Linked DNA regions of Homo sapiens. The protein of the gene in region 2 purifies or fractionates together with the protein of the main gene of each other region. This does not show direct contact. Each region holds a gene or a part of one and is shown on either strand. Other genes may lie near its edges.

Region 1 (3,500 bases), on a different chromosome or scaffold from region 2:
GATGCTTTAGTAAAACTCATGGTCCCTGGATATAATTTTCATTTTCAAGTTTGATTCTTGTTTTTTTCTTCATCTTGAGCTCTAAAATGGTTAGTGCCTGTAAAAGAACCAACTACCTGGTCGCATTTCTTAAATGAAGTTTTAAAGTATGTATAAAAAAAAATTGAAGAAACGAAAAAGGCAGAATTTAAGAAATGTTGGTACTTAATATTTTGTAAGAACTCATGTTAAACATTTAAAATGATACACTGTGTCCTCATTATTAATTATCTCATGGTTTTATAGTAGAATGTTAATGGGGAGCTAAAAATTTTTAATTTTATGACTGAACTCAGTGAAATTAAACTATTTTTCATTTCATATCACTTGGTATAATTTGCTTGGCAGTCTCATTTCTTCAGCTGAGATTCAAATGAAAGTTTCAGTCTATGGAAAGTTTTACCATGAAAACTAAAACTGTAGATTCATCTCATTCTTTGAATCTTGATACAAAGGGAGAAACTATTTACATACAGAACAATGTGCAAAATAGAATTTAAAAGACAAAGATAAATAGGAAAGCACTTGGTAACTGGAGAGACAGGCGATGTTTGAAAGTTAGAAGCAATTTTGATTTATTATCAGATGACTGAGCCCTAATTATTTTAATAGTCCTTATAATCTCTCTTTTTCACCTTCACTTCAGTCAATTCCATATAAACCTTAACCGCTTTTAAGCTTCTTCATGTCCCTATCAAAGAAAAAGAACAACCATTTAGGAAAAGTTAACTTTTCTCTAGTATTGTTTAGTAATTCTTTTTAAATTCCTAAATTATCTTCTGAAATAGTTTTTGAAATAGGCATATTTTTAGGACAATATGTCTACAAGTCATCATTCTTAATAATTAAGGTAAGATAGATTAGTTCAGAAAAAATAGGACATTTTTTGGACTAAACGAGTTACTTTAAAGTACTATGTCATTATGGCCAGGGGCTGATGTTTATATTCAGATAAAGTCATAAATTGCTCAGAAGAAAATACAACACTGTATATCTACTTGAATACCAACAATTCATACATAGGTCAAAACCGTATTTTCTTTTTCATCACATTTAAGGAGTACAAGGAGTACAAATAGTAATCCATTTCGGTGTATACATTAATGCAAAGAAGACATAACCCCCAAACTCAAGGCATTTAAAACATTTTCTTGCTTTATGCCAAAGAAACTTTTTCAAAGCACTACCTTGAATTGCTTTTCCAGTCGTGTCTTTCCTCCTACTCCTGGTATAAGGATGCTGTTAACATAGCTGTGCAGCTGATTTGAAGATACTTCAGTCTCCTTTCCAAGAATGGCTTCCAACAAGGCATCATGGATGAAAATGTACTGCTCCTAAGAGGTACAATACATGGTAGTCACTGAGGGAGTGTTAAGGGTTAGCCACTCATTCATGAAGTGTACCTTAGTTTAATTCTGCTGCTAACAGGGACCTCCCAGTGATTTCCTTCAAGCACTTACAGCTAGGTGATTTGCTCCAATACTCACTTTATCAGTCTTAACTTATTTTACGGTAGAGACTGTGTTAAGTTTAGCTCTGTATTCTATACTGTGCCTGGATCACGGTATTCTATACTGTGCTTATTGCTTCAACTCAATAAGCAAACAAAAAATCGTGTTCAATGAAGGGTTTTAGAACCATCCTCTCCTATGTATTTCTCAGGCCAGACAACATGTTTAACTCCCCCTACCATCTAACACAGCTCTTGAAACAACTGTATCTCTTTCGTAAGTACTTGTGTAGTTATTTAGGAATCCAAATGTTAAGATCCATACAGAAATGGAAAACTGTGATCCGTAGAATAGGATCATTGTCAGAATATCTTCTAATACAAACCTGTAAATTACTGCAAGCCCTAAAAGAATGAATCTGTCTCTTCATTATCATTTAACAAATTTCAGTTACAGCATTTGCCAGAATGTCGTGAGGACGCTGGCAGCTACTCCTTACCTCAGTCTGGACGAGGTAGTTACGCTGTGTCCTGATATGCTTCAGGAATCCCAGGACGTTAACTGTGCTTTTGTCTTTTATCTGTTGCAGCATGCTGTCTATTACAATATAGGTGCCTGTTCTGCCCACACCAGCACTGTAAGAAATGAAGACACTCAACTGGCACTTTTGTTTTATCATACTGTTAACTTTGGATTCGAAAAATTCCAATCTAAACCCCATTTATTTTATTATTTTTCTGAGATGAGATGGAGTTTCACTCTGTTGCCCAGGCTGGAGTGCAGTGGCGCAATCTCGGTTCACTGCAACCTCCGCCTCCCAGTTCAAGCAATTCTCGAGCCTCAGCCTACCGAGTAGCTGGGATTACAGATGTGTACCACTACACCCGACTAATTTTTTATCTTTAGTAGAGGTTTCACCGTGTTGGCCAGACTGGTATCGAACTCCTGACCTCAGGTGATCTGCCCACTTTGGCCTCCCAAACTGCTGGAATTACATGTGTGAGCCACCACTCCCAGCCTAAACCCCACTTAGATAACCTTAGATGACGTACGTTATTCACTTAGCATTGCAACATAAATCACAGAACAAGCGACATGTATTTGAGTACCAAAGTTTAAAACAAACAAAAAAGAGGCAAGAATGCATTTTCAAATGAAACAGAATAAAAGCATTTTTAAACAACCAACTAAAGTCATTTACTGTGGCTGACAAAAAACAAGCTTTATACAAGGATTTCCCAGTGCTTTTGAAAAGGTATTTTATATGGAACATTTAAACTAAAAATTTAAAAATGAAATATTTTCATATATACTATAAATATTGTTATTTAGAAGAACCTTTCAGAAAAGCCATTTACAAAAACACAATCTCTATTCTAGTGTGGAAAGTTCTTGTGTTTAACGTCATATTTTTATTTATTAGGATCAGGCTACAATTTTCCTATAAACAATGGGGATTTTGTAATTTTTTCTTTTTTTTTTTGAGTCATGATCTTGCTCTATCATCACCCAGGCTGGAGTGCAGTTATGTGAACACAGCCCACTGCAGCCTTGACCTACTGGGTTCAAGGGATCCTTCTGTCTCAGCCTCCCATGTAGCTGGGACCACAGGCATGTGCCACCATGCTGGCTAATTTTTTTATTTTTAATTTTTGTAGAAATGGGGTGTCACTTTGTTGCCCAGGCTGGTCTCAAACTCCTGGGCTCAAGTGATCCACCCACCTCAGCCTCCCAAAGTGCTGGGATTACAGGAGTTGGCCTCCATGCCTGGCTGATATTATTAATAAGAAGATTTTATAAAAACTAGGGATTGATCTAGTTTTTTAAAAATCACAGAAGCAGCAGATGATTTCTTAATGTTACAGGAATAGAGCCTCTTTAAGACTATCATAGGTCTTATCCATCCCAGTTTCCAGTGGAAGATTCAGCTTCTAAGTGAAAGCAGTAGCAATCATTGTGGTCCAAGGTCACTGAGGCCTAAGTCCCCTGCCCCATCTATTTCACATGTTG
Region 2 (4,025 bases):
CTCTCTCTTCAGGATGGTGATGGGGCCTGGCCAGTCCAAGGAGGCTCCTGGGTGGTCACTGAGTGGGAGGTCATCTTCACTGTTTCCTCTCCTCCATGGTAGGAAATCACTGACCAGGACATGTTTGGAGATGCCAGCACGAGTCTGGTTGTGCCGGAGAAAGTCAAAACTCCCATGAAGTCCAGTAAAACGGATCTCCAGGGCTCTGCCTCCCCCAGGTACTGCAGATGGAAAGGAAGCAGGGGGTACAGCCTGCAGCTGTGCTTAGCATGGGCTTCAGGGCTGAGGGAAAGCGGGGCTGGCAGCAGCTTTGGGGTTGGAGGGGCTATTTCACCAGCCTTTTTCCACCTCCCTGGCAGCAAAGTGGAGGGGGTGCACACACCCCGGCAGAAGAGGAGCACGCCCCTGAAGGAGCGGCAGCTCTCCAAGCCCCTAAGTGAGAGGACCAACAGTTCCGACAGCGAGCGCTCCCCAGATCTGGGCCACAGCACGCAGGTACTTCTGGGTGCCCCCAAAACACCAGGACCCTCTGAGATTCCCTGAACTTCAGGCTCTGTTTTGTTGGCTTCCTTGGACAGTTAGTTGGAGAGAAGAGGAATACTTGGAAATGCTCTGAACAAAAACTCTTGAAGAAAGACTAAATTAGAGAGGTCTCCTATATTCCTTGCTTACTGCCAGTGTGGAACTGGCTTCCACGCTGACCTCTAGGGCGCAGGCAGGGGAGCCAAAAACGCTGTGTGGTCGTGGCCTGCCACGGCTGCGAGTGTCGATTCCACACCACCGGTGTCTCTGCCTCCATCAGACGTCAGTCTGGAGATTGTGCCGTGAATCCACTGTTGCAGAGGACAGCAGCCTCTGGATCTCATGGGACATCCTGACCCGAGCTCCCAACCTGAGTATTGCTGTGGGCGGTCATCGTGCTTTCAAGCCGGGAAGCCAACAATATTAAACTGTTTCAATGGAAGGACCCGAGAGTGGGCTGGAGAAGAAGTCAGAAGAACTGGGCCTCAGGAATCGTGTTCTCCTTTTGAAGGCCTGTGGTGTCAGAGATCTGGGACAGGGATTTTCCCGGCACACCTTACACAGTTCCAGTTCTGCTAGGGTTAAACAGCCAGCCTGTTCATTCCCCTGATAACTTACCAAGTGCATTGTCAGTGTGGCCTCCTGAGCTCCATGCTATTACATGGCTGAAAATGAACTTGAGACTAGAATAGCCCAGTGCCTGGGGTGAGGTATTGTCCTTCTTGTTAATCACTGTTCCTGAAATACCTTTTGTTCCCTCAGACAGCAGGTACCCACACAGCACTCATTGCCACTCTCATTATTTCTCTCCCCACTGCCCTCGTTTCTGTTTCTCTGAGCACCTGCTGGCCGCCCTCTGCCTCTCCCTTCCTGGTTCTTACGCTGCTGCCCCTCCTGCCACCCACACCGTTTCCCATCCGCGAGGCTTGCTGCACCTCCATCCTCTCCACCTGCCCTGGCAGGACAACCGCTGTGGCTTTGTTCCTCATCTCCATGTGTCCTCTAAGGACTCGCTTTGCTGCTTCTTTCTCCTCCTTTCCATCGTGGTCTGGCCAGTGGGAGACTGAGTCTCCCTCCCAAAGTCCTGATATCTGTTCTCTCTAACACCCCTGCTCCAGAGACTCCCCATGCACCAGTCCAGCAGCCCTGTCCTCAGGCTCCCCAGGGACTCCCTAACAAGAGACACTTTCTTTTGTTCCTGCAGATTCCAAGAAAGGTGGTGTATGACCAGCTCAATCAGATCCTGGTGTCAGATGCAGCCCTCCCAGAAAATGTCATTCTGGTGAACACCACTGACTGGCAGGGCCAGGTAAGTGCTGAAACTGCGAGGCCATGTGGGGTCCTGGAGGGCAGGCAATGCCCGGTTGCATTGTCAGTGTGGCCTCCATACTATTGCGTGGGGAGGTGGGGAACTCACCCCTCCATCAGCCCCCACCTGCTCTGAACTGAGCCCAGAACTCTGAGTTCTAGTCCAACTTCTGTCATTATCCAACTTGTGGGATCTTAAATCACTAAGTTTGCTCTACCTCAGCTTCCTCATACGTTAAAAAACAAACAAACAAAAAGCAACAGTAATTCCTCCAGGGCGCCACATGCGTCAGGCAGCATAGTGGAACGGAGGCCTGTAGAGAAGCACCCGGCTGTAACCTCCAGGGCTGCCCCATGAAGGCAGGTCAGCAAGGCAGAGCATCCCTGCCTGCTCCCTCACCGCTGTCCACCTGGCTTAGACACTGGTGCCGGGGACACCTGGAGTGTCCTAGCATGTGAAACCCCCTAAGGCTTCCCATCTCTCACACTCTGCGTGTCTCGTGGGTCGGCCCCACCCCCTCCTTACTGGCAGTCCGGAGACCTGGCTGCCTTTGCCCAGCTTCGGTCTGAACTGCAGAGGACAGGGGCCCTGCAGCTCGGTCTGGGTCTCACTTGCCTCTTGGCCCTTGTGAAGGAGTGATGTGTTCTCACCTGTGTCCCTGCTCTCCTCCCTCCCTATCCCAGTATGTGGCTGAGCTGCTCCAGGACCAGCGGAAGCCTGTGGTGTGCACCTGCTCCACCGTGGAGGTCCAGGCCGTGCTGTCCGCCCTGCTCACCCGGATCCAGCGCTAGTAAGGGCTCTGGCCTCCCTTCTCCTGCCCTTAGAGATTCCCTCTGACCTCATCTTCCAACCCTGACTTCTAAGCAATGATAGACCCTCCTGGCCTCATCAGACCAAGAATTTGCAGAGGGGCGTATGTTTAGGGGGGTGGCGGCAGCAGGCTGTAGGGCTTGAGGCCCCGGCAGACCCCAGAGGATCGGGGGTGGAAATATCAATTCCTGTGCTCCCTGCCTCCCTGCCTGGACCCCCGCCATGCCTTGACTTGCTTTATCCTCTTAAACCCATGATGAAGGAGAGGACACACTGGTTTTAAAAAGATCTTTTATTCCTTCCATCTGCAACATGCTGCTAGACACTCAGGAGTCAGTGCTTCCCCTACCCTCAGGGCCTTCTTAAAAGGCCCAAGTCCCTTGCCCTTGTGAAAGAGAACTATGGATTCCAGGCCTGGGGGCACACACCCTGCGGGCATCCCAGGCACACTGCCGAGTCCTACGTTAGCCTCAGCTGTTCCGTCTGCTTCATGGGCAATGCCCTCTGACCCTGGATTTTTCTCTTGGTTGTGAAAGCACTGTGGCTTATTCCCTGTATGATCCTCTCTGTTTTATTTTGTGGATTGGTTTGCTTTTCCCCTGTGGGTTGTTGAGATCACAGAAAGTCAGCTCTGGGCCTCCCCCGGGCAGGATCCTGGCACCCCTGAGCACTGCTATGACGCTCCCCTTCCTCCCCAGCTGCAACTGCAACTCTTCCATGCCGAGGCCAGTGAAGGTGGCTGCTGTGGGAGGCCAGAGCTACCTGAGCTCCATCCTCAGGTTCTTTGTCAAGTCCCTGGCCAACAAGACCTCCGACTGGCTTGGCTACATGCGCTTCCTCATCATCCCCCTCGGTAAAGACGGGAGGCACCAGGAGGGCGTCGGGCATGAGGGTTCCATAGACAGATGCCTCATCTGGAACAGGACGGTGGGGTTGGGGCCTAGGAAGGGACAGTCAAGGAGACCAAGGCCGTGGCCAGGGACAGCTGCTCCCACACTGTCTCATCTCCTGACGAATTCACCACCTCTGGTTTTCCATCTACCAGGTTCTCACCCTGTGGCCAAATACTTGGGGTCAGTCGACAGTAAATACAGTAGTTCCTTCCTGGATTCTGGTTGGAGAGATCTGTTCAGTCGCTCGGAGCCACCAGTGTCAGGTAATGGCCCCGTGTAAGGAGCTTACTCCCACCCCCGGGGTCCACAGGTGCCAGCCTGGCTGCAGAAGGAGGCTGAGGTCATGCTGCTTTCCTCCCTGCAGCTCTCACCTTCCCGGTCACTCTGTCCATTCATTTTTCCATAAGTGTTTATTAAGCGGAGGCTCACTGTGCACAGCCCCTCCACTCTGCCAGTTTTCATCCTCTGCTATTTGCTCTGCTCCTGTTCAT

Evidence for each region.
Region 1: the proteins of PACS1 (region 2) and PTPRG purify together in Homo sapiens (affinity purification with mass spectrometry; one large-scale study listed by BioGRID and IntAct). This does not show direct contact.

Annotation. Positions count from the first base shown.
Region 1 is NC_000003.12:62,271,571-62,275,070, reverse strand, and holds part of PTPRG (receptor-type tyrosine-protein phosphatase gamma isoform 1 precursor), read right to left. Parts: intron 2,126-3,500; coding exon 1,990-2,125; intron 1,374-1,989; coding exon 1,227-1,373; intron 1-1,226.
Region 2 is NC_000011.10:66,230,446-66,234,470, forward strand, and holds part of PACS1 (phosphofurin acidic cluster sorting protein 1), read left to right. Parts: intron 1-102; coding exon 103-218; intron 219-359; coding exon 360-495; intron 496-1,726; coding exon 1,727-1,831; intron 1,832-2,514; coding exon 2,515-2,621; intron 2,622-3,339; coding exon 3,340-3,494; intron 3,495-3,686; coding exon 3,687-3,797; intron 3,798-4,025. UniProt on the Homo sapiens protein: Coat protein that is involved in the localization of trans-Golgi network (TGN) membrane proteins that contain acidic cluster sorting motifs.